2 linked regions of the Homo sapiens genome follow. The protein of the gene in region 2 purifies or fractionates together with the protein of the main gene of each other region. This does not show direct contact. Each region holds a gene or a part of one and is shown on either strand. Other genes may lie near its edges. The genes, in order: PRR14L and ANKK1.

Evidence for each region.
Region 1: the proteins of ANKK1 (region 2) and PRR14L purify together in Homo sapiens (affinity purification with mass spectrometry; one large-scale study listed by BioGRID and IntAct). This does not show direct contact.

What each region holds. Positions count from the first base shown.
Region 1 is NC_000022.11:31,743,452-31,747,270, forward strand, and holds part of PRR14L (protein PRR14L), read right to left. Parts: intron 1-3,819.
Region 2 is NC_000011.10:113,390,620-113,394,438, reverse strand, and holds part of ANKK1 (ankyrin repeat and protein kinase domain-containing protein 1), read right to left. Parts: intron 959-3,819; coding exon 664-958; intron 1-663.

The sequences.
Region 1 (3,819 bases), on a different chromosome or scaffold from region 2:
TAAATCAGTCAATTGTATGGCATATGAATTAAATCTTAAAAAAATGATTTCTTTTAAAAAAGAACCTGGCCGGGAGCGGTGGCTCAAGCCTGTAATCTCAGCACTTTGGGAGGCCAAGGTGGGTGGATCACTTGAGGTCAGGAGTTCCAGACCAGAATGGCCAACATGGTGAAACCCTGTCTCTACTAAAAATCCAAAAAATTAGCTGGGCATGTTGGCGAACGCCTGTAATCCCAGCTACTTGGGAGGCTGAGGCAGGAGAATCGCTTGAACCTGGAAGGCGGAGGCTGCAGTGACCTGAGATGGGGCCACTGCACTCCAGACTGGGTGACACAGTGAGACCCTGCCTCGAAAAAAAAAAAAAAGAACCTGACCTTGACCCCAACCTTTCTTTCAATTCCTAACCTACATTTCACTTGCAAGAATGGCACCCCCAAAACTTACCAAGTTTAAAACAGAATTCATTCAATCTATTGAATAACTGAGTCTTTGAGTCTTTCTACACGCAAACAGCTTTGAGAAACAGGTATAAATAAGACGCCCTCAGCAAACTTACATGCTCATTCATTAAAAAAAAAAAAAAAAAGACAGGGTCTTGCTGTGTCGCCCAGGCTGGAGTGTGGTGGTGCGATCATAGCTCACTATAACCTTGAACTCCTTCTGCCTCAGCATGCCTGGTTAATTTTTTTTTTTTTTTTGGGATGGAGTTTCGCTCTTGTTGCCCAGGCTGGAGTGCAACAGTGCGATCTTAGCTCACCACAATCTCCACCTCCCAGGTTCAAGAGATTCTCCCGCCCCAGCCTCCTGAGTAGCTGGGATTACAGGCATTTGCCACCACACCCAGCTAATTTTGTATTTTTTAATAGAGATGGGGTTTCTCTATGTTGGTCAGGCTGATCTCAAACTCCCAACCTCAGGTGATCAGTCCGCCTTGGTCTCCCAAAGTGCTGGGATTACAGGCGTGAGCCACTATGCCCGGCCTACTTTTTTATTTTTGTAGATAATTTTGTATGTCTTGTTATGTTGCCCAGGCTGGTCTCAAACTCCTGGGTTCAAGCAATCCTCCCACCTCAGCCTCCCAAAAGTGCTGGAATTACAAGCGTGAGCCACTGTGACTAGCCACATGCTGATTCTTAATCCTGTTGCTTCTCAGAAAAGGCACCATCAATATTCTAGAGCTTAGATTTGAATCCCCAGCCATAACCATATCTGACTTCCCCTCACCATTCAATCAGCACTTGCAGCCTGTGGACTCAACTCCCTGCAGTGTTTCTAGTAAATCATATTCATTTCCATCCCCACAGTTCTAGCTCAACATTTGTTCCAAATGTTGCTCCACATACGGTCATACACAAATACAGGTTTACTAAACAGATCTTTATCATAAACAGTGAATACTGATAATCACATAAAATGGTTCACCTCTTGATACTCTTGTTTGGACCAAATTCTAAGAATTTCAACCTGTAAAACAACTAGGCACATTGGCTAGAGAACCAAAACAGACACCCCCTCCTTTTTCTCCTGGACTAATTCTGGGTCCTCAAATTTCTGAACAGAATTGCAGATACGTTACCAAGAACAGCTGGAACCCTAAGAGGTGAGGTGATATTAAATGCAAGCCTAGAGTGGCAGGTTAAACATGGCCGGGTGCTTTGGCTCACGCCTGTAATCCCAGCACTTTGGGAGGACAAGGCAGGCGGATCACGAGGTCAGGAGATCGAGACCATCCTGGCTAACACAGTGAAACCCTGTCTCTACTAAAAATACAAAAAATTAGCCGGGTGTGGTGAGGGGCGCCTGTAGTCCCAGCTACTCGGGAGGCTGAGGCAGGAGAATGGCATGAACCTGGGAGGCAGAGTTTGCAGTGAGCGGAGATTGTGCCACTGCACTCCAGCCTGGGCGACAGAGCGAGACTCCGTCTCAAAAAATAAAAAATAAAAAATAAAAATAAACTTATTTTCAGCTCAGTAGCTCACACCATCTATCAAAATATTGGTAATGCCACAAGACTGCAGTGACAGAACCCGATTTTGAGAAGACATTCAAGTTCTTTAAATTCCTGAATGCAATGGAGCAATCTAAAAGGATGATGTAGAAATACATCTCTACAGCCGGGCGTGGTGGCTCATGCCTGTAATACCAGCACTTTGGGAGGCTGAGGCGGGTAGATCACTTGAGGTCAGGAGTTCAAGACCAGCCTGGCCAACATGGTGAAACCCTATCTCTACTAAAAAATGCAAAAATTAGCTGGGCGTGGTGGCAGGAGCCTGTAATCTCAGCTACTTGGGAGGCTAAGGCACGAGAATCGCTTGAACCTGGGAGGCAGAGGTTGCAGCGAGCAGAGATCGCGCCATTGCACTTCAGCCTGGGTGAGAGGGAGACTCAGTTTAAAAAAAAAAAAAAAAAAATATATATATATATATAAGCCAAGTATCACAGTGTTACCTTGGACAATAGGATCACCAATGACTTATCTGTATGTTGAACTTTTTTTTTTGGAGATAGGGTCTCTGTGGCCCAGGCTGGAATGCAGTGGCTTGATCACAGCTCTCTATAACTTCAAACTCTGGACTCAAGCAATCCTCCTGCCTCAGCCTCCTAAGCAGCCAGGACTACAGGCGCGAGGCAGTGAACCCAGCAAATATTTTTATTTCTTGTAGAGACAAGGTCTCACTACATTGCACAGGCTGGTCTTGAGCTCCTGGCCTCAAGTGATCCTCCCACCTCGGCCTCCCAGAGTGAGCTGCTGCACCCAGCCTTGTACTTATTTTTCAAAACAGTGAGTATATATTACATATGTTAAAATGTTGTCTAACCATTATTTCTCAAGATCTAAACACACAGCAATAAAAACAGCTGATAAGTGTATTTTCAGTATTTTTTATCAGTATGTTTTATCAGTATTTTTCCAGCTGTCAGCTCTCTGCCTTAACCACCAATGCTTTTACATTAAAGTGTTAAATGTGAAGTAAAAGGGAAGAGTGAGTAACACATGCTTATAAAATGTAGACAGGGATTTACAGCTTAATCTTTGCTAATGACTTATAATCAACCTATTGGGTGAGGATACCAGATAATTACCTAGTTTGAGGTATAAGCAAAAAATAAACCATAGATTTATGAACGACTTTTGACAGCTGCTACTGGCTTGTCGTCTTTATCACAACACAAATAAGTACTATATTAGAATGTGTAGGGAATGGATTTATTCCCAAAAACTGACTAATACTTACAGGAAGTATGAAAATTATTATTCCAGTAAAAGTAGAAATTCTTTTACGTTGAGGACAATTATTTCATGTTCTTTCTTTGCAAACGCACAAATACTTCTCCCAGCAGTCTTTTTTTTTTTTTTTTTTTGAGACGGAGTCTCACTCTGTTGCTCAGGCTGGAGCGCAGTGGCGCGATCTTGGCTCACTGCAAGCTCTGCCTCCCGGGTTCATGCCATTCTCCTGCCTCAGCCTCCCAAGTAGCTGGGACTACAGGTGCCCGCCACCACGCCTGGCTAATTTTTTTATTTTTTTTATTTTTAGTAGAGACGGGGTTTCACTGAGTTAGCCAGGATGGTCTTGATCTCCTGACCTTGTGATCCGCCCGCCTCGGCCTCCCAAAGTGCTGGGATTACAGGTGTGAGCCACCGCGCCTGACCCTCTCCCAGGAGTCTTTTTTTTTTGAGACAGAGTTTCACTCTTGTTTCCCAGGCTGGAGTGCAACAGCATGATCTCGGCTCACCGCAACCTCTGCCTCCCAGGTTCAAGCGATTCTCCTGCCTCAGCCTTCCTAGTAGCTGGGATTACAGGCATGTGCCACCATGCC
Region 2 (3,819 bases):
ACTGGGCAGCAGATAAGAAAAATGAGACACCCCCTGCCAACACACACACTCCATATCCTCGTAAATACTTATTCAAATAGGGGGTCCAGTCATTAATGAAAGTGTTTCACTAATGATTATATACCTATGTTGGGGTTAGTAATATGGAGAATCAGAGGTACAGTGAAGGCATATAATGGGGACCTACTGGAGTAGATCAGGGAAGAGCTCCCTGAGGAGGTGATGGTTAAGCTGAATAGTGAGTAGACCTTCGCTAGGTAAATAGAGGGGAGTGGGGAAACAGAAGCTGCAAAGGTCCTGGGGCAAAAAAGAGTTTTAGGAAGTGAAAGAATGTCCATTACAACCTTTCTTAGGGATTGTCTCATTTACACACGTCTCCATCCAAATAAAAGAAAGTGCAGGGAAATAGAGATTATTCTATCCAATTTAGAAATGGGAAACTGAGTCCAAAGAGGGTTATTATAGGCATCCTGATACCCAGCCTTATGCCCCAAATTTCACTGCTTAGCCATCTCTATTGCAGTGTGATCCCTGCCTTTAGAATTTGTCCATGAAGGGAACTGCTTAAAACCCTTGACAGGCCGGTCAGGCAGGTGGATAATTCTGCTCACCTGGAGGCAACCCTCAAGTGAAAGGGAGCGGAGGATTGGCCAGAGCCCTTACTTTGACATGCATGTTGCTGTCCAGGAGTATGTTGCCCGGCTTGAGGTCCAGGTGGAGCAGAGGCGGCTTAATGCTGTGCAGGAAGTTCATGGCCAAGCTGGTCTCATGGATGATGCGGAACCTGAGCTTCCAGCAGAGGCTGTGGGTGGACAGCACCTTCTCCAGGGAGCCGTTGGCCATAAACTCCATCACAATACCCAGGGGCTGCTTGCACACCCCGTAGATAGACACGATGTGCTGAAACTTGATCTTCTTCATTTTGGCAGCTTCTTCAATGAGGTAATTCACATCAGAGCTATGGAGAGGGGGAGCAAGATATGGAAGGGGGTGACCCATTCATTACTACAGCAACCAGCTGAACACATAAACTAGCCATGATGCCAGACTGTGGGGACCCACAGAAGCCTCAGGAGCTTGCAAGGTAGTGGAAGAGGAAAGAGAGACATGAAGCAATACTTAGCAGGCCGCTTAGATTTCAGTACAGCAGCAACAAGGCAGGAAGTAAAGGAGTTTGCAGGTTTAGGAGCCAGTCCATTCTGCAAAGGTGGCCACAAAAAAGCAGGTATCACAGTTTGCCCTTTATTCTAGTTGCTTGTTTCTATGTTTATCTCCCCTAGTAGATTTTGAGCCCCCAGAGGACCAACATGATGCCTCATGCTTCTGCTTCAAAACATCATTTATTACCATTTAAATTATGGAAGTAATACATATACCTTGTAGGAAACATAGGGAATATAGAGAGCTATATAAAAGAAAAATAAGTTACCAGGGATGCAACCTTCCAGAGCTAGCCTCTGTTGATATTTTAGTATATCCTTTTACTATCCACCTTCAAGGTATCTCTTTCCCTTTCTCCCTCTCTTTCACTCCTTCTTTCTGCTCTCTCCTTTTGGATCACATAGTATGTGGAGCACGAGCACTTCCCCACACTGCTGTTCTTCCAAAGCATGATCTTTAGTGGCTGCACACTATTCCATTTTATGGATGAACTGTAATTATTCATCTCTATAATTCCCAAAGTGCATTGCCATGCATTGCACAATACATCTTTGTTGAATTGGAACAGAAGTCGAAACTTAAGGGAAGGCCTTACAAAATAAGCATTTGCAAACCCTGTTGCTCATTTCACTGTATGTGCCCACAGAACAGTAAATATGAAAATTGTTATAGATTATTTTGGGATTGCAGGGATGGGGATTAAGGAGAAATGACATATTTGAGAGCACAGTATTTGCAAAACTGTGATGGTGCTGTAGTCAGAGACTGCTGGCAATGTGCTCCCGGGGTCTCCCTGGGAAGCCAGCTGGAGAGCCCCAACCTTCAGGAAAAACCACATGCTCTTCCTGGCATCTGGACATGTTGGCTAGTGTAGGTTTCTCCTATTCTTGTTCACTTGTGCCAGAGATCCCTTCTCCACCTCTGTGATATTTTTAATCTGTCTTCTCTCATCCTCTTGGGTTCACAGGAACCAATGACATCTGCCATGGCATGGAAAAAAGCATGGGATGTGGGAATCACACTGCCCTGATTTCAAATCCCAGTTTCACCCGTTATTATCTGTATGACCTTGGGCAAGGGAATCCTCTGGGCCTCAGTTTCTAAACTAAAAACTGGGAATAATTGTAACTACCTTGCACAGTTCTTTCATAGCTTCCTACCCAGAAGTCTTGAGAGCATTTACTGCTGTCTCTCCTCTTCATCATCTTGCTGCACCCACTTTTGTCTAGTTTCTGGTACCTGCACTCCCCTGAACACCTGTGGCTAAGGTCACCAACAGCCTCTATGTTGCTATATCTAACCAATAATTTTCAGTTCTCAGTGTATAGTTCAGATCTCTGACTCTTTTTCTTGAAACTTCGTTACTTGAGCCACGTGTCAACATTCTCCTGCTTTTCTCCTACTTGTCTGGTCACTTCCTCTCTGTTTTCTTTGCAGGCTCATATCCTGTTACTTGACCACGGGGCTTAGTCCAAGCCCTTCTTCTCTGCTCTTCTCCCTCTATAATCTTTCTATAGTCAACCTCATCATCTCCAATTGGATATTCAATACCAAATGTGTCTGAAGCTAACCTCCTGATTTTCCCCTGAAACCTGCTCTTCCTTTAGTTTTCATCATTTCAGTGAATGGGGCCTCTGTCCTTCTAGTCCTCAGAATAGGACCCTGGTGTCATCTTCGACTCCTTTCTTCCTCTCACTTCCCACAGCCAAGTCTTCGCAAATCCTGCCAGCACCACCTTCAAAATACTGTCGAGCAACAAGCTGACCACTTCTCACCACCTCTCCCCCAAGGTGCATCTCAGCCCAAGCCTCCTAATTGGACTCTGTTTCTCCCGCTTCCTCTCCACAATCTATTCTCAACCCAGCAGCCAAAGTCATATTTTAAAATCTAAGTCACAACATGTCACTGCCCTTCTCCAATGGCTCTCCTCATTCACAGTAAAAGCCAAAGTTCTTTCATGGCTGAGAAAGTCCTACAAGATTTGTCCCCAATGCCAGGCATAGCTTGCTGACCTCCTTTCCTAATCACCCTCCTCTCATTGTGCCCCTGGCACACGGGCTTCCCACTGTTCCTCCACCATGCCCAGTGTGGTCCCACCTCAGGACCTTTGCACCTGTTGTTCTCTCTGCCTAGAACACTCCTCCCTAACAGAGCCACATGGATTACCCCTTCATTTCCTTCAAATCTCTACTCAAATGGTACCTAATTAGTATGGATTTCACAGAGAAGTCTACATAAAAAAGCAACCCCATTCCAACTCTTATATTCCCCATACACAGAGGGCCCTGGCATTAATATTTTTAGACCAACCCATTTCTTGGAAAATCAGACTTCTCAACCCTTCTTAGATATTTTAATCAAGAACTGTCAGGTGGTCATGAGTGCTATAGCTAAAAAGTTTATTATTCATTTGCTATTTATTTTGTCTTCCTCCTTTAGACTATAAGCTTCATGAGGGCAAGGACTTTGTTTTTTTCACGTAGTGCTTGGAATGAATGCATCTCCTCCATGCCTTTTTTTTGCTTTGTTTTTTTTTTTTTTTGAGACCAAGTCTCACTTTTGTTGCCCAGGCTGGAGTGCAATGGCATGATCTTGGCTCACTGCAACCTCTGCCTCCTGGGTTCAAGCAATTCTCCTATCTCAACCTCCTGAGTAGCT